Linked DNA regions of Homo sapiens. The protein of the gene in region 5 purifies or fractionates together with the protein of the main gene of each other region. This does not show direct contact. Each region holds a gene or a part of one and is shown on either strand. Other genes may lie near its edges. The genes, in order: SNX9, PCMT1, PIP, DBNL and MAP4K5.

Region 1 (3,924 bases), on a different chromosome or scaffold from region 5:
AGGGTAATAATCAAAATAAGTAGAAAACCTGGCAGCTTCTTCCTTCATTAACACTTAGTAGTTCTGTGGCTTCTCTGTCCAGTGCTCACTCATCTAATGAAATAATGCAGCTCATCTGCATAACCTGTTTGCATCATGTGGGTCATACATTTTTATTTCCATTTTAGGCTATTTGAATTATTTCTATTTTTTCAGGTGTCATTTTTCACATATTTTAAATGTACACATTTCTTTTGTAGAAAAGGTACAGCAATGAAGACAATGACTGCTGGAATTCCAGACACATACCAAAACCTGTGATTTGCACATTAAACGTTCTTGTGAGACGTTTAGGCAACTTCCAGATAGATGTACAACATGCAATGGTTCTCTCTTCATAGCTGTATTTAATTACTGTTTCCAACTCCTGCATCCTGCTGCTCTACAGGATGGAAAATGCCATCACTGACTTACAGGAAGATAATCTGACTGGAGTCTTTCTATTTGTCATCCTGGGTTTAGCATTACACACACTCACCTGTGACTTGTTTGTCTGGAAGAGAAGGGATTGGAATGGCTGACCCAAACTTAACCAGGAGACGCTCATATAACCAGTCAAAGTGCTTATACCTGTGGTTTACAGATCGATTAGTGTTCTACAAAATAAGGGAAAGAGAAAAGGTTACCAATGCCAACTCTAGAAAATGAAGAAAAAAGCAAGCTGCAATCAGTGATCCAAACATGATTCTGCTTTTGATAACGTGGATACTTACAGTAGGTGTTAGCTGATATTCGATGTAGCTCTTTAGACCATACATTTTGGAGCCTTTCCTGGGATCTGCTACCACACAGTCAAAAGTAGAGGTAGGATAAACCCACATTGGGCCATAATCTCCAACCTATGCCAATGTTCCAGAAAGAAGTAATTTTGTTACATGGAAAAATAATAAATACAATTGATGTGAATCAGCAAGTAATTCTTTTCAGAATGAGAAGTCCTTTGGAGGGTCATTCTTGTTCCTCTTTGAAAGGTACATAAATGGTTCAATGGTTTCTGTTCCTGTTAGATATTATGTTTAAAGAACACACCTGTGGGAAACCCTTCTGCTCCCACGTGAGTAGCTCAGCCCATGGAGAGGAGACACCAGCTTCCCTCTCCCAAGGACAGTGCTGGTTACAAGACAATGTTTCTTTCTAGTCTAGCTGTCTCAAGCTACACGTGATGAAGGACTAGTTTTTAAAAATTTCGAATCTATCACAGACTAATAGTTTGGTGAAATATAACATTACACATTTTGATTTTTCAACAATACCAAATTGTCCTCAAGTTTTCAAAATATTCTCATGTACTGTACCTATCTCACGGTGGATCAGGAACAAGCAGTTTTCAGATGGGCAAGTGGTCTGTGGACCATACTTTGAGTAGCATTGTTCTGGCTCATAGAAACGATTAATCAGATTGGCCAGAGCCTGATAGTCATTGTTTTACTACTAGTGGCAAGGTGGGGGGAGGGGGAGGTACTACATCTTAAAAGCAAGAACCAGGCTAGCTGTTTTCTTCCGTGGACTGCTATGTGCCTAAGCACAGTGGGCTGGCTCACTTCCAACCCCCGGGTATCACGTCCACCTGGGCAAGGCTTGCCTGAAGAGGGTAGGCCTCCATTCTTTTCTCACTGGCCTTCTCTTCTATCTGTGACTAGGGCAAAAGTTCACAAATTCAGGCGAGGCTTACACTAGCTCACTGGGGTTTTAGTTGTGGTGGGAGGTGAGGAAGGGAAACCAGCTAAATTCTATGTGGGGGTGTAGAGACCTCGTGTAAGTTTTGAGCCTGAGGATCATTTCTTCTAGGCACTGCTAGGTGACAATAGGTCTGCTGTCCCAAACCTGGTTTTTTCATCTTATTTAAAACAGCATCCAAGGCCATGGGGGCAGCTGCAGAGGAACCTGGATGCTGGAGCTCATGTACAGGCTTCTGGAATCACTACCTGAGTCACCAATAGTCTCAAGTTGGTTCTGCCTCATTCATTTCATAAACTTTGATCACAATGACAGATTCTAGAGGTTCAGACTGCAGGACAGTAGCTCTTATCAAAACACATTTCAGAGCAATAGAAGTCCTTATTATACTGAGAATGTTATCTATCTTCTTGGCTTGAAAATGAAAAATAATTGAGTTATAATCCAAGAAGAGAATGAAAAAACAAACACATGGACTGTAAAAGGACCACTATTCAGGAAGCAGATTCACTCAGAGATTCATTCAGAGATTCAAGGAGAATGAAATAATTTATGGAACAGGTTTTATTCTTGCAGACTTGAAAAAGTACCATAAGAAAGTAAAAAGAAAATGAGAAAAATCACACAGATTGCGCTGAAGGAAGAGAGATTTGTTTCGGCTGAGACCTCAGAGAGGCAAGGCCAGACAGACATAAAAAGGAAAAAAAGGTATACCCAGTCCTAATTTTTTTTTTTAAGAGGAAGATGGGAAAAGCGGATTGGGATATTAAAGTTCAGAGGCTGTTAGGTCAGGAAGGTGACCTACTCCAAGGATAAGAGTAGTTTAAAAAGAGACTAAAATCTCTGAGAACAATTACTATAACCCCCTCAGGGAGAGCCCAGATCCAAGAAACTAGCTGAAAGCTGCAGAGGAGATGACTTTCGGGACCTCCCTCAGTGAGTGGGCCGAGAGCAGCAACTGTGCTTGGCTAAGGCCCAATTTCACGGGGCTCTGTTTCATGAGTGGGCAAGGTTACTGCACTTTTAGAGCAAAGAGTTAGTCTCTGCTTTCTCTGGGCCTCCTGAAGACGCGGTGGCTTTCCTCAGCTTCTTCCATGTATAGACGCCCACACAGGCAGACCTGCCTACTGGGTGCATGGGTGCAGTTCTACTTAAAACTTGCCGGTCAATGAAAGGCTGGAACCCTTAGCTCTGTACCACCACTGCAAACCTGGGACAAAGTCCCCTTTAAGAATGTGAGGCAGGCCGGGCGCAGTGGCTCATACCTGTAATCCCAGCACTTTGGGAGGCCAATGTGGGCGGATCACAAGGTCAGGAGTTCAAGACCAGCCTGGCCAATATGGTGAAACCCCGTCTCTACTATAAAATACAAAAAAAATTAGCTAGGCGTGGTGGTGCATGCCTGTAATCCCAGCTACTCGGGAGGCTGAGGCAGGAGAATTGCTTGAACCCGGGAGGCAGAGGTTGCAGTGAGCCAAGATCACACCACTGCACTCCAGCCTGGGTGACAGAGTGAGACTCTGTCTTAAAAACAAACAAACAAACAAAAAAACAAAACTGAGGCAGAGCTGTGCGCTCTTGATTTTGAGGAGTTTTAAATGTCATGAAAAGAATAATGGTACATGTTCAATTTTTATTAAGTCCAGAGAAAACAGGAAAAAAAAATCTTTAATATAACTACTCAGAAGTTAATTATCCCAAATTTGCTTTGAGGGAAAAAGCATAAAAAGGGCTCTTGGTTACAGCTCTTCAGCTTGGAGGCTTCCAGGATTTGGAGTTTTTCAAACATGCAGGCACAAGTAATTAGAGAATCTAATACTATTCCTGCAATTTTATCAAGTTTCCAAAGACTACAGAATAAGACCAGATGTTTCCTCATCCTCGATTGAGTCCAGGATGAGAACACTCAAGGCTTCAGGTTCCCAATCTAATTGTTACAGGGTTAAGTCAATAGGATCAGAAGATAGCTACAGTTCTCTTTTCCAGAATTTCATTTGGGAATCTACAACTAAATATCACCTAGACAGAAAATCTACCACCAATCAAAATGTGGAATGAAACCGAAGGGCTTGTGTCACATTATGCAATAACCAAGTAATTCTAAGACAGATATTCTCAATGATGTCTTTAACTCCCAGCTTCCATTTGGTAGCTCCTTATCTCAATTTGACAGCTGGTTTACTGGAAAAAACACTATTACCAAAAACA
Region 2 (3,924 bases), on a different chromosome or scaffold from region 5:
TACCTTCATCCTGGTAAATCTGCAGGAATGTTTAGAAACCAGGCTCATTCTGGGCAGGGACAGTGGAGAGGGTGCTGGGAAATGAGTCCCCTGGGAGACGGGGCCCAGCTACGATGCTAAATATCTCAGGCTCCTGAGTGACTGGATTTCCCTGGGACCCTCAGACATGTCCCAGGGCCCGGTGGGGAAACTGAGGCCTGTACAAGGAAGTAGAATTCTGAGTTGTCGGGGCTAAGCCTGACCCCCTCTCCATGCTAAGCCCACCCCCCACACTGTGCCTCAGTAGGTTTTTGTTGTTGTTGTTGTTGCCCAGGCTGGAGTGCAGTGGTGCAATCAAGGCTTACTGCACCTCCACCTCCTGGGCTCAAGGGATTTTCCTGCCTCAGCCTCCTGAATAGCTGGGACTGCAGGTGCTCCACCATGCCTGGCTAATTTTTCTATTTTTAGTAGAGATGGGGTTTCACCACGTTGGCCAGGCTGGTCTCGAACTCCTGGCCTCATGTGATCTGCCTGCCTAAGCCTCCCAAAGTGCTGGGATTATAGGTGTGAGCCACCGCGTCTGGTCCCTCAGTAGGTTTTAAGGAGCCTCCAGCCTTCCTTCTCCCCTTCTGGGCCTGACCAGCTATACTGCTCTGTCTCCCCCAGCCACATGCCCCACCAAGTACTGTAGAGAGTCCCCTACCCAGGGTCCCTGCACCATGAGATAAGGTGAAATACCAACTGTGGACCAAATGCAATAAAACCTCTGTTTTTAAGAAGAAAAAAAAAAAAAAAAGAAAAGAAAACCAGGCTTATTCTATTCTTTTCTGCCAAATCAGAACTTGGAAGAAGGTAGTTTGGGAGCTACTGGCCACCATCTTGTGATTACAAGGGTAGAGCTTACCGGATAATGACACCAACATGTGGAGGAAAGTAAAGCCAAATCAAGAAACAGAGAGAACCCTATCGTCAATAACAACATCTGCTCTTCTAAATCCAGCCACACAACAGACCGTATACACCCCTAGACTTTTCTGTTATATGAACTAAATAAACTCCCTTTTAGCTCTGCCAGTTTGGGTTGCATGTTCTGTCACTTGCAACAACAACAAAATCCTAAGTGATGCTCATTCCAACTGCTATCCTAATAGAATTAACAAACAAATAAACATGAAAACCACTAGTTAAAAAAACATACAGCCAAATCATATAATATTCTTCTGTTGGGGCCAGAGTGAGAAATAAAACTCTTACCATACGTGCAAAACATGCAGTAAGGATTCCACTTCCAGATCCTACATCAAGAGCTTTAGCTCCTTCATGCAACTGATCAAATAGAAGTTCTAGCGCATATGCATGCTGCCAAAAGAAAACAAAATATTCATTAAGACTAAAGTACACACATCATGGTATATAAATAAAGTTGCCAACTTTCTACCAATTTTTCTACTATTGTCATCTACCAAGATAACCAAGTTATCTTGGCTATCTGCCCAGGTATTACTTAAGTAAACTGTTTGATTAGAATTCTTACATTCAGATCATGTGTTTCAGTAATTTTAGACCTCCAGTGTGTGAATTTTTAACTTTTAATTAATTCAGTAAAAAAATTAAAAGATTTATAAGTGAAAAGTCTCCACCCTACTCCCATTTCCAACCATCCAGGTTTCACTCTGTAAAGGTAACCAATATTACTAGTTTCTTGTGACTCCTTCCAAAAAGGAAGGAATAGATTCTTTGCATATATAAGCAAATACAAAAATACAAAGGCTAATTTTGTATTTTTAATAGAGATGAGGTTTCTCCATGTTGGTCAGGCTGGTCTCGAACTCTCGACCTCAGGTGATCCGCCCACCTCGGCCTCCCAAAGTGCTGGGATGACATACATAAGCCACCACACCCAGCCAGTATTCTCATTATTAAAAATAATCAGATCAGGCTGGGCGTGGTGGCTCAGGCCTGACATTCCAGCACTTTGGGAGGCTGAGGCAGGTAGATCACGAGGTCAGGAGTTCAAGACCAGTCTGGCTAAGATGGTGAAACTCCATCTCTACTAAAAATACAAGAAAATTAGCTGGGCATGGTGGCAGCCACCTGTAATCCCAGCTACTCGGGAGGCTGAGGCAGAGAACTGCTTGAACCCGGGACGGGGAGATTGCAGTGATCCGAGATCATGCCACTGCACTCCAGCCTGGGCTGTAACAGAGCGAGACTCCATCTCAAAAAAAAAAAAAAAAAAAAAAAAATCAGATCCAATAGCAGTAAACACATTTACTACCAGATCTTGGTTGATAAAAATACCCATCCATTAATCTATAGTGATAAATTAATACATCATTCTATACATATATAAATGAAAAATAGGGAAAACCGTTCCCAACAAATATATAGATACATAATGAATGCACATAGAAAAAATTAAGAAAATCAGCCTTTGGGCAGCCATCTCAATAATAACTGATTGATTCAGGTAAAAATCATAAATGGAAGCTAAAACTAGTGGACTAACATTTGAAAAATAAACAGGATATTTACATAATCTCAAAGGGTTTGCCCCAGATAATTATTAATCACAAAAGGAAAAATAGTAATTTTACAATGGAGTTCAGAAAAAAGTTCTCCAGTGGAAAAACTGGGTCAACACTACCTTAATCAGATGATCAAAGTTAACACCACAATTATGGGACACACTGACATCAAATGCCTCTGCTAAGATACTTCATTTCTGGGATATGCCAGGCAAAAATGCATAACCTATATTGAATTATGAGGAAACATCAAACAAACCCAAATTGAGGGACATTATACAAAATAAATGGCCCATATTCGTAAAAATTTTCAAGGTTTTCAAGGTCATAAAAGAATAAGGAACCATTTCTCAGTCATTCTTTAAAGGAAACTAAAAAGACATGACAATCAAATAAAACTCACAATCTACTATTTTCTTTTCCTATAAGGAATATTATCAGAATAATTGATGAAATCTGAATAAGGTCTATAAATTGGCTAATAGTGTTATATCAATGCTGACTTCCAGATTTCAAAAATTGTACTATGGGTATGTAAGAGAATGTCCTTATTTTTAAAGGTAAAGAGCATTGGCCGGGCACAGTGGCTCACACCTGTAATCCCAGCACTTTGGGAGGCCGAGGCGGATCACGAGGTCAGGAGATCGAGACCATCCTGGCTAACACAGTAAAACCCCATCTCTACTAAAAATACAAAAAATTAGCTGGGCGTGGTGGTGGGCGCCTGTAGTCCCAGTTACTTGGGAGGCTGAGGCAGGACAATGGCGTGAACCCGAGAGGCGGAGCTTGCAGTGAGCTGAGAACGTGCCACTGCACCACTGCACCCCAGCCTGGGCGACAGAGCAAGACTCCATCTCAAAAAAAGTTAAAGGTAAAGAGCATTATGCCTGTAATTTACCCTCAAAGAGCTCAGAAAAACGGAAATATAATACACACACATACACACACACACACACACACAGAGGAGAGAGGGGATAAAGGGAGAGAGAATAAATGATAAAGCAAATGGTGAGATTTGCTTTACCAATGGTAAGACTGTGTGGACAAAAGTACACAGGAACTGTACTATCTGCATAATATTTCTGTAAGTCAGAAATTATGTCAAAGATTTAAAAACATTTGGGCCGGGCATGGTGGCTCACACCTGTAATCCCAGCACTTTGAGAGGCCGAGGCGGGCAGATGACCTAAGGTCAGGAGTTCAAGACCAGCCTGCCCAACATGATGAAACCCTGTCTCTGCTAAAAATACAAAAAATTAGCCGGGCGTGGTGGCGGCTGTAATCCCAGCTACTGGGAAGCTGAAGCAGGAGAATCGCTTGAACCCGGGAGGTGGATGTTGCAGTGAGCCAAGATGGCGCCACTGCACTCCAGCCTGGGTGACAGAGCGAGATTCCGTCTCAAAAAAAAAAAAAAATT
Region 3 (3,006 bases), on a different chromosome or scaffold from region 5:
AGATCTGCTTCTAACTCTTCCATGTATACTTAATCCTGCCCAATATGAAAGTGTTTACCTGCCCTGAGCAAGCCACTATTTCATGCTTTGGGCTCTTGGTGCCTGCGTCCTATCTACTAGAATGCCCTCTGCCCACTTCGTGCACCTGATCCTTGCTCATATTCCACTTCTATGGGCTGGCCCTCTGGGATGAAGCCCCTCAGGGCTCCCTCTGCCCCTTTACTCCTCTATTATGCCTGAGCTCCTCAGGCAGAGCTGCACAGGACCCTGATATCCCTGAGTGTCACAATCCATTGAAAACAAGCAACAGAATAGCATAGAATGCTACTGCTCATTTAGGGGGCCATGGACTCCATCCCTGACTCTGCTGCATGCAACAGGACTCCTGTCTTCTGGGATCTGAGCTGTTGCTGGAGGGCAGTGGGATGGAGAGAGGTCAAGCAACAGGGAGGCTTGGTGCCTGCCCTGGCTCTGCCACTCCTGTGCCGTGAACTTTAGGGCCACTGCTTTTCCTCTCTGTGAGCATAGCTCCTCTTCCCAGTTTCTTCTTCTCTCCCTCTTCATACCAATGGGCAGTGAGAACCCGTACAATCTCCTCAGTAAAGGTTCTTTGAAAGACAAATGTTCTAGAAATTTCAGGTAATCTGGGGTTCTTCAGGAGCAGATTTTGGAGATACAACAGAACATGGAGAAGCATGTTAAGAAGTTTATTTTATAGACCACAGCAGAAATTCCAGCCAAGTTTCTTTAGAGGAAATCACCTGGGTGTGGCAAACAGACAGGGCTTCCATTATTCTACCTTTAGGATTTCAATAGTATAAAACCGGTTGTTTTTGATGGGGATTACAGCAGCATCATCAGGGCAGATGCCTAATTCCCGAATAACATCAACGACGGCTGCAATTTGCACAGTTCCTGAAAAAGACAGGGACGGAGATCATCTCTCAGACACCCCGGCCATGTCCTGTCTTTTCTACTCATATCAGGCATCTGCCCCCTGGGGTTCAGTTTCCCCAAATCCTTTGCAAATTTGTCTCCTGTATCAACTTTTTGCACTCAATGCCTCTGTCTTAGAACCTGGGTGCTTTCCCCATCTGCTCTCCCCATGCTCTTCCCTCCCTCCCTTCTGTCCTTCTGCCCTGAGGTCCTGGTCCTGCTCGGTTCGCAGCCATGTTTCTGTTTATAGTTTCTCCTCCCTGGTGGCTGGTGGGTAGTTCCCTCCTTGGACAACTTCTGTACTTACTGTTGGTGTAAAAGTCCCAGTAGAAGGTTTTTGGATTGTCGTCACATAGGCAGGCAGTATACTTATAGTTAAATGCACCTTGTAGAGGGATGCTGCTAATGAGGTAAGTTTTAACCTGGTGAGGAGAAGGTGGGAGGGGGAATTCATTGTTATTTTGGGGAATGGGTAAGGGAGGGAAAAATAGGAGAGGGAAAAGCCGGAGGAGAAGAGTGGGGGTGGAGGTGGGCCTAGGGCAAGGGGGAGTCTACTGTTGTAGTATCATTTCAGGAGCCAAAGTCTAGGTCAGAAGGTTTTCCCTTCCAATGCCCTCAAACTCCTGCCTTAGCAGTGTGGAGAAGCTCAGGAGGAGATAGGGATGCAAGTGAATCCACAGGGCAAGGAGAGCTCATCCAGGGCAGCTGTCCAGCTGAGGAGCAGGCTTGCCTTAGTCACCAGCCAGAGGTTTCAGGAATCGACCTGCAATCACGTTTACTCTGAGACCTGGTGAGACAGCAGCCTGGCCACTTGCGTGTAGGAGCCAATGTCAGGCCTTGTTGTCAGAGCTGTGACCAAGCCCCATCTGTGCTCCTCTCTGACTTGGTGACCTTTGGTGATGAGAGGCCTCTCACTCTCACTTTCCTCAGGTATGAGGTGGAAACAATTAACTACCAAACCTGGCTGTTAGATAAGCAAATAACATCTTGAATGTAAATTTCTTTTTAACTTGAGTGCTTTGCAATTCAAGATCCCAGATTATTGTATATATAAATTTCAGTGGAGTCAGAGGATTTTGTCCAGTTAACGTTTAACACAGCAGTTTTATCCTGGGGTCCATAGACCCAGAGGGATCTGTGGATAGCATTCAGTGAGTCTGTGGACTCAGGCAGGGGAAAAATATGCATCTTTATTACTAACCTCTAATTGAAATTCAGCATTCCTTCTGTTATGAATGTCATCAAGGAACCACAGTGCCATTAGCAGTATGTGTGATTTTATCACAAGGAGAAAAGTAGATATGTACATATCATTGCACGGATCCAGAGGTCCGAAATACAGCCTGAATGTACTACCTTGAATGTATGGCAGTTATCAGACTGGCTCATGGTCACGACTGAGGCCCAGTGCCATTCTGCCCACCTCCTGCAGCTTGCTCAGCTACCTGGCAACTCAGCATCAAGTAGCCGTTCAGACCTAAACAGTAAATTCAGGTGTTCTCACCCTTGGAGTTTTACTCAGAATGCCTTGGAGAATCCTGGCGTTTCTTTGGAGAAGACTACCTGTGCCTTGTTTCCCTTTTTTTTTTTTTTCTAAGAGACAGAGTCTCACTCTGTTGCCCAGGCTGGAGTGCAATGGTGCGAACGTGGCTCACTGCAACCTCCGCCTCCCAGGTTCAAGTGATTCTTCTGCCTCAGCCTCCTGAGTAGCTGGGATTACAGGTGCGTGCTACCAGCCCTGGCTAATTTTTGTATTTTTAGTAGAGACAGGGTTTCACCATGTTGGCCAAGCTGGTCTCGAACTCCTGACCTCAGGTGATCTGCCCACTTTGGCCTCCCAAAGTGCTGGGATTACAGGCACAAGCCACTGTGCCCGGCCTTGTTTACCTTTCTGTTACATTAGCAACAACATATCGTCATGAATCAGAATTTACACCACTTGTACAATAAAAGATCAGAATCCGTTGCATGCCTAGCATGGCACGTGGGACGTGTTGCCAAAGACCAGTGCAGTTTAATGTACTTCTTCAAGCTAAGTAACAACATCCATCACACAGATAATGTGTTCAT
Region 4 (3,924 bases), on a different chromosome or scaffold from region 5:
AGCAGGTGAAGATCTGGAGGCGCTCCTTCGACATCCCGCCGCCCCCGATGGACGAGAAGCACCCCTACTACAACTCCATTAGCAAGGTGGGCTGCCTTTGCTGGGAAGGCCTCTGGGAAGCTGCAGAGTGGGGAGTCGGGTGGGGGCCCACTGGCTTGGGAGGGAAAGCAGCGTGCCTGTGTCCCCCAGGAGCGTCGGTACGCAGGCCTGAAGCCCGGGGAACTCCCCACCTGCGAGAGCCTCAAGGACACCATTGCCCGGGCCCTGCCCTTCTGGAACGAGGAGATTGTTCCCCAGATCAAGGCCGGCAAGCGAGTGCTCATTGCAGCCCACGGGAACAGCCTGCGGGGCATTGTCAAGCACCTGGAAGGTGAGGCCACCTTCAGGAGCCTGGGCAGGGTGGGTGGGCAGCAGCCCCAGCTGGCTTCTCATCTCAGCAAAGTCTCTCGCCCATGGACCAGGCTTTCTAGGCGTGGGGCTCCACATCATTCACTGAAAAAGGAGGGCTGAGAAGCCATTTTTTAGTTTTGTGAAATTTTCCCCATTTCTGTGTAACTGGGACACACTCCACAGGGGCTGACTGCACTCGAAGCTCGCTGTGTCCCGAGGTGGGGCAGGCTCCAAAGGTGGCATCTGCCAAGGGACACCCAGCTAGGAAACGGAAGGGCTGGGCTTAGAGCATCTGGCTCCAAATCCCAACTTACTGTGGGGCCCTGGACAAGCCACCTCCATCTCTGGGCCTCTCCCTTTTCCGGGGTGGTGGGGAGCTCCCCCTGGTACTGAATTCCTCTTGATGTAGGCTTGGACCCCTCGCAGGGCCCTCCCCCATCAGGTCCTCAGAATCCCTGCATGAGCTTCACCACCTATCTCCCTCTGGAGCCCCTCTCTGGGCAAAGGAAAGACCAATCAAAAGAGGGGTGCAGGACTATGGAGTGGCCAGACTCTGGGCTTGCAGCTGGGCTCCCACTGAAGAGCAAGGGCTGACAAATGGGCCCGGGATGCATGGGCGCAGTAAGGCCTCGCCCAGAGTGACTGGCACCTCCGCTCCGCCTCCCACCTTAGTATTCTGACACAAGGGCAGTCTAAATTAGCATCTGAATGACCTTAAAGCTTGTTGAGTCCTGGAAAGGCTAGAAGGGTGTGCCCCAGACCTCCTGCTCCTAGGGCCGTTGGGCAGTTGGCCAGAGCACCCAGACCGGCAGGCCCCGGAGACCCAGCCAGCCCCAAGCCTGCCCGCTCCAAACACGGACACCTGGCACCTGGCACTGGGGCCAGGCAGAGGGAAGGACCACCTGCCTCCTCTCCCTTCCGGAGACTTCATGCAGCCCCATGACCCTCCCACAGCCTGGTTTGGGGAAAGGGGACGCACTTTTGGTGGTGAATATGAGGGATTTCACTCTGACTCCCCAGAGAACATTTTCTTAAACCCTCCTGCACGGAGCAGGGGTGGAGTGGCGCGAACATCAAAGGTCGAGCTGCTATTCCCAGCTCAGGGGCTGCAGGAGGCAGGCAGGGTCAGGTTTCGACCAGGCTCGGCCTCCCTGTCCCTCCTCCAGCTCCATTCCGCACTTGCTCCTCTGTTCAGGATGTCTAGAATTTAGAGCACTTTAGAAACCAAAGGGTGCTGGGCACGGTGGCTCACTCCTGTAATCCCAGCACTTTGGGAGGCTGAGGCAGGCAGATCACCTGAGGTCAGGAGTTTGAGACCAGCCTGACCAACATGGTAAAACCCGTTTCTACTAAAAATACAAAATTAGCCGGGTGTGGTGGCGCTCACCTGTAATCCCAGCTACTTGGGAGGCTGAGGCAGAATCACTTCAACCCAGGAGATGGAGGTTGCAGTGAGCCAAGATCGTGCCACTGCACTCCAGCCTGGGCAAGAGGAGTAAAACTCCATCTCAAAAAAAAGAAAAAGAAAAAGAAAAGAAAAAAAAAAAACAAAGGGTGAGTGTCCCTTCCTGACCCTCAACTTCAGTCTGGCTGGAGTCACACTGGGCTGAGGGAACTATGGACAGCACCACCACAGATCACAGCCACTTGGGTGGGGCTGAAGTCCCCATTTTTTTCACCACTGGGCTATTTCTGTAGGCTGCTTGGTCTAACTCAGTTACTCCTTGACCTTTGGCAACATTTCTGTGGCCTCGTTCTCAGGGCTGGGAAGGAATTGGTGCCAGGGGAACTGGCTCTGTGGACCATAAAGGTCACATAGTGTCTGCTGTGTAAACAGGCTGGGGACAGAGGGGCTAAGGACACCTATTCCTTCCGGCATAGGGATGTCAGACCAGGCGATCATGGAGCTGAACCTGCCCACGGGGATCCCCATTGTGTATGAGCTGAACAAGGAGCTGAAGCCCACCAAGCCCATGCAGTTCCTGGGTGATGAGGAAACGGTGCGGAAGGCCATGGAGGCTGTGGCTGCCCAGGGCAAGGCCAAGTGAGGGGTGGGCTTGGGCAATAAAGGCACCTCCCCCAACAGCCTGGAGTCCAGCGCAGCCGTGCATGCCAGGCTCACACCGCCATCAGCTGTGGGGACTCCAGAACCAGGGGTGCAGCCACCCACCCTCCCCCACTCCATACGTGTGTCACCAGGGGCAGGAGCCTAGTACCCACACCTAGTCATCAGGACACTGAGCCAGGGCTGCAACCACTCCATGAGTTTGCAGTCAGGACAAGCCTGTGGTGACCCTGAAGCTTCAGAGCCACTTAGTAACCATGCTCCAGAATTGGCGTGCTTGGGGCCAGTTAGAAGAGGCCAAGTGACCCAGCTCTCCCCATGGGGAGCAAGGACCACAGCCCAGGACACGGCTTCCTGGACAGCTTCCTGCAGAGGGCAGGTGGTCCTCTGCTGTCCTTGCAACCCCCGGGTGGCACTTTGAGCCCTGCCTCTTGGGTTGGGACAGGCAAGCCCACAGGGGGCCTCAAAGCTGGCAACAGCCCAAACCTGGGTCTTCCATGGGAGTGGAGGGGAAGTTCCCTCTTCATGGGAGAGGCACCAGGAAGCCCTGGCGAAAAGGGGAGAGGCCTGAGCACAGGAAGGCCAGGAGCAAGGTTGGGCTCCATGCAGCCTTCACCCCAGGCACTAGCAGGTAACACCTTGAGTCAACCGCCTAGCAGTCTGCCTAGCAGCTCTGGGGCACAGGAGGGACCTAATTCCCCGGATGCTCAGTGGGTGCCAGGTACCTGACGCCACACAGTGGGCCATCCCATGTAGGCAGAGGCTCCCTGAAGCTGGGAGCAGGGCAGCCCTTGGCCTCTCCTAGAGGAACTGGAACGCAGGAAGGCTCCAACTTCAGTCCCATCTTAACATTTAGCCTCTTCCTGGTGGCTGATCATCATCAGCCACAGTCTCAGGGTGAGGGTGCTCACCCCAGACACGGAGCAGAGGCAGACACTGGGCAGGTGGTGGGGTGCTATTCCCACATGGGAGCATTCAGGCTACAGCAGGACAGGTGAGAGCTGCGAGCCTGTGTAGACCAAACTGGGAATTCGTGGTCCAAAAGCATATTTGTTCTTCAGAGACACGGATGAGCTGGGACAGAAAATAGGGGAAGACAACAGGCCAAGGCCACTCTGTGTTACTTTTCCTGAAGTCAGAATCAGTTGAGGCACACACTGGGGCCTGCAGGCATCGAGTGAGCCGCGTGGAGGAACATGTTGTGTCTGCCGTTTTTGAATACCCAGGGTGGGAGCTTGGCCATCTGCATCCCCACTTCCCATAGCCCAGGCAGAGGGACAGAGAAATGGAGTGGGGAGCACAGAGCAGGCTCCAACAAGACAAATTCCCTGCTGCCAAACCACCATGATCCACTCTGACTTTGGTCACAAACTCTGCTAAAAACAATTCTCTACGTTCACTGTTCCCAAGGGTCATTCTAAACAGTGGTGGCCACCACCCCTTAGAAGCAAGAGAAAAAGAAAAAAGGC
Region 5 (3,924 bases):
AGGCTGAAGTGGGAGGATCACTTGAGCCTGGGAGGCGGAGGGTCTAGTGAGCTGAGATCATGCCACTACACTGCAGCCTAAGTGAAAAAGTAAGACCCTGTCTCAAAAAAATAAAAATAAATAATTGAAAAGGTCCAAATTCTTTGATATGACACATGGAGTCCATTAGCTGGTGTTTCCTGCCAGAAAATAGCCTCTATTCTCCATCTATAAAATAATAAAAATAAATAATTGAAATGACATCTCTGCCAGATGTCACACTGAACCTGGAATGAATACAGATGCAGATCTCTCAAAACTCATCACGGCTTCTCAAGCCTCCAGGTGTTTGCACATACTATACCCAAAGCCTGGAATATCTTTTCCTATCTTCTCTACCTAGAAACCACTGGTCTTCTTTTAAAAATCCAGTTAATGTTCCTTCCTCTGTTAATCTTCCTTGGTTCACACTCCTCTCTCTCCCTTCCTTCATCCCCAATAAAGGCAGAGTTTGGCATTTCTTCCACTTCTCCTCTATGGCACATAATTTTCTACCAAATTATGACTGCTTACATGTCTGCTTTCTTTTTTCTTTTTTGAGATGGAGTTTTGCTTTTGTTGCCCAGGCTGGAGTGAAGTGGCGCAATCTCAGCTCACTGCAACCTCCGACCCCCGGGTTCAACCAATTCTCTTGCCTCTCCCAAGTAGCTGGGATTATAGGCACCTGCCACCATGCCCGGCTAATTTTTGTATTTTTAATAGAGATGGGGTTTTGCCATGTTGGCCAGGCTGGTCTCAAACTGCTGACCTCAGGTGATCCACCAGCCTTGGCCTCCCAAAGTGCTAGGATTACAGGCGTGAGCCACTGCGCCTGGCCACGTCTGTTTTCTTGACTAAACCATATGTTCCTTATTGACAGTGTACTTCATCTCATGTTTGCATCCCCATATCCTAACACATTGTCAGCACTCAACAAATACTTCTTTAATGAATGAATGCTTCTAGAAGTGTGATGATACATTAAGCTTTGTCTCTATAAAATGGGATCTTGGGATATGTTTCAAAGTGCCTAAAGCCATTCCAGAATGGTGACTCTTGGCTGGAGGAAAAGAAAGTAAAGGCATACATAAAGGAGATTCCCCATAGCAGACCTAATTCATCTAGCATCCAGAGGAACCCACGTTAGTGATAAGACTACATGACAAAGACTTCTACGCAAATTATAACATCATTTATAATTGCAAAAAAAAAAGTTTAAAAACTAGAAATAACAAATATGCAACTTAGAATGATTAACTAAATGAAGGCTCATTCAACGGATCCTTTAAAAATAGTACTTTTGACTGGGTGTGGTGGCTCACCCTGTAATTCCAGCACTTTGGGAGGCCAAGGTGGGCAGATCACGAGGTCAGGAGATTGAGACCATCCTAGTCAACCTGGTGAAACCCCGTCTCTACTAGAAATACAAAAATTAGCTGAGTGTGGTGGCACATGCCTGTAATCCCAGCTACTCAGGAGGCTGAGGCAGGAGAATCACCTGAACCAGGGAGTCAGGAGGTTGCAGTAAGCTGAGATTGCGCCACCGCACTCCAGCCTGGCGACACTGCAAGACTCCGTCTCAAAAAAAAAAGTACTTTTGTATGATTACACCACTGCACTCTAGCCTGGGCAAAAGAGCAAGACCCTGTCATCCAAAAAAAAAAAAAAATGTACTTTTGTAGAATATTTAACGACTAGGGAAAATGCTGGTCATTTCAATCAAACAGAAAAAAGACCTGTATCATATTCCCAATCATAAATTAAATATAAAAGCCATTTTGGAAATACTGATTTAAAAACATTTAGGAAATAAGCCTGAAATAAACTGTATTAAATTATTAGCAGTACCTATCTCTGAGTAATTTTCTACAACTAATTTGTTCAACAAATATTTATTGAGCATTTGTTTGTTACATTACAAAGATGTGCAAGAGACATCTGTTTCTGTCCCCTGGGAACTAAACATGTTATTCTTCTATAATCAATCAGATAAAGCAATAAAGCTTAGAAAAAAATTCATAGGATTGCCCAGTCTAAATTTATATTCTATGAAAGGTAAAATAATAATAATAATAATAATAAATAAATAAATAAAAATAAAAATAAAAAGCCAGATTGCCAGAACTTCTCTGAAATCTAGGCTGGAAGCAATTTTGATACAAATATTTGGATAAGGGCTGCCCAAATGGCTTGTACTACTGATTATGAACTGTATCATGATGCTGTAGTTGTTATAGATCCTTGTGGTCAGAGGTAGTTGAGAATCTAAATCTCCAGATTTATCCTTCCTGCTGGCAGATCTACATTTTTACAGTAATTACAAATAAAAGCTGCTCAGTTGACATTTAATCCTTCATCCACCATCCACCAAATTCCTTTTCTCTTCTGTGTTTCTTTTCCCTCTACCATTTCCTGCTCTTGCCCTCAATGATTCACTCCATTTATCTAAAAGAATCTTTATGTTCCTCCTCTTCTTTCAACCAAAGAACAGCCAATATAAGATTGAACTCTCCCTCTTGGGGATTCTCAGGAAAGATGGAAGCTTCAGAGGGGATCTGTGGTATTGATGAACATAAAAGTAAATTACGAAGAATCTCAAAGCCAGAGTCCTTTAAAGCTTCTGCTTCAAAAGATACCTAAGGTGTAAAAAAAAAAAAAAAAAAAAAGGCAGGGAAAAATCCAGGCTTGGTGGCTCACACCTATTAATCCCAGCCCTTTGGGAGACTGAGGCAGAAGCATCACATGGGGTCAAGAATTTGAGACTAGCTTGGGCAACACAGGAAGACCCTGTCTTTACATTAAAAAAAAAAAAAATTAGCCAGGCATGTTGCCACACACACTTGTAGTCCCAGCTACTGAGGAGGCTGAGGAGAGAGAATCCCTTAAGCCCAGGAGTTCAAGGCTGCAGTGAGCTGATCGTGCCACTGGACTCCAGCCTAAAGCACAAGACCATCTCTCAAAAACACAGGGGGATATTATCTGAGTAGAACAGTGGCTAATTTACCTTCATTATTCTTTACTGCAGGTATTTCACTAGTTTATATCCTACATTGAAAATACTTCTAAAACGTCCTAGGATGTTCAGCTCATCAGAAACACAGTGATAAATAGCAAAATTACTCTAATTGCCCAGAGCTTAAAAAATTCAGCACTACAGTTTCAGGTTATGTGTTTTTAGGCATACTAAGGAGTAAATTTAAACTGACAAAATTCTATAGGACTTAGATCACTGATAGTGGATATACTATAAAATAGTTTTTCAGAAATATTTCCCCAGAGAACTCAAATAGATGAAATTTGTAATAAAAATACACACGCAGGGTATCATTAGACAGCATCACAGGGCCGGATGTGGTGGCTCATGCCTGTAATTTCAATACTTTGGGAGGCCGAGGCAGGCAGATCATTTAAGCTCAGGAGTTCGAGACCAGACTGGGAAACATGGCAAGACCTCCTCTCTACTAAAAAAAAATACAAAAATTAGCCAGACATGGTGGCACACACCTGTAGTGCCAGCTACTTGGGGGGCTGAGGTGGGAGGATCACTTCAGCCCGGGAGGTTGAGGCTTCAATGAACCAAGATCACACCACTGCCCTCTAGCCTGGGGGACAGAGCGACATCCTGTATCCAAACAAACAGACAAACAGAAGGCATTACAGGAATACATAGAGTATTAAATGCTAACTTAGTGCTATGATGTCAAAAGCATGTGCTCAGAGAACTAAGTGACAGAGTCTGATATTCATTCATTCATTCATTCATCAAATTTTTAGGAAGTACTTACTCTGTGGCAGGCATAATCAGAGACAGAGCAGTGAAGAGATTAAAATCCCTGCCATCATGGAGTATTTTAGTGAATCAAGATAGATAATAAACAAGAAAAAAATAAGTAAAACATTATGTTG

The links.
Region 1: the proteins of MAP4K5 (region 5) and SNX9 purify together in Homo sapiens (affinity purification with mass spectrometry, with the first as the bait; one study listed by BioGRID). This does not show direct contact.
Region 2: the proteins of MAP4K5 (region 5) and PCMT1 purify together in Homo sapiens (affinity purification with mass spectrometry, with the first as the bait; one study listed by BioGRID). This does not show direct contact.
Region 3: the proteins of MAP4K5 (region 5) and PIP purify together in Homo sapiens (affinity purification with mass spectrometry, with the first as the bait; one study listed by BioGRID). This does not show direct contact.
Region 4: the proteins of MAP4K5 (region 5) and DBNL purify together in Homo sapiens (affinity purification with mass spectrometry, with the first as the bait; one study listed by BioGRID). This does not show direct contact.

The regions. Positions count from the first base shown.
Region 1 is NC_000006.12:157,906,619-157,910,542, reverse strand, and holds part of SNX9 (sorting nexin-9), read right to left. Parts: intron 879-3,924; coding exon 753-878; intron 636-752; coding exon 518-635; intron 1-517. UniProt on the Homo sapiens protein: Involved in endocytosis and intracellular vesicle trafficking, both during interphase and at the end of mitosis. Required for efficient progress through mitosis and cytokinesis. Required for normal formation of the cleavage furrow at the end of mitosis.
Region 2 is NC_000006.12:149,787,368-149,791,291, reverse strand, and holds part of PCMT1 (protein-L-isoaspartate(D-aspartate) O-methyltransferase), read right to left. Parts: intron 1,339-3,924; coding exon 1,234-1,338; intron 1-1,233. UniProt on the Homo sapiens protein: Initiates the repair of damaged proteins by catalyzing methyl esterification of L-isoaspartyl and D-aspartyl residues produced by spontaneous isomerization and racemization of L-aspartyl and L-asparaginyl residues in aging peptides and proteins.
Region 3 is NC_000007.14:143,137,427-143,140,432, reverse strand, and holds the end of PIP (prolactin-inducible protein precursor), read right to left. Parts: intron 1,359-3,006; coding exon 1,244-1,358; intron 916-1,243; coding exon 791-915; 3' UTR 694-790; downstream 1-693.
Region 4 is NC_000007.14:44,061,278-44,065,201, reverse strand, and holds part of DBNL (drebrin-like protein), read right to left. Parts: 3' UTR 2,439-3,924; coding exon of another isoform or gene 2,272-2,438; 3' UTR 371-2,271; coding exon of another isoform or gene 190-370; 3' UTR 87-189; coding exon of another isoform or gene 1-86. Other genes in the region: PGAM2 (phosphoglycerate mutase 2), read left to right, coding at 1-86, 190-370, 2,272-2,438. UniProt on the Homo sapiens protein: Adapter protein that binds F-actin and DNM1, and thereby plays a role in receptor-mediated endocytosis.
Region 5 is NC_000014.9:50,525,740-50,529,663, forward strand, and holds part of MAP4K5 (mitogen-activated protein kinase kinase kinase kinase 5), read right to left. Parts: intron 1-3,924. UniProt on the Homo sapiens protein: May play a role in the response to environmental stress. Appears to act upstream of the JUN N-terminal pathway.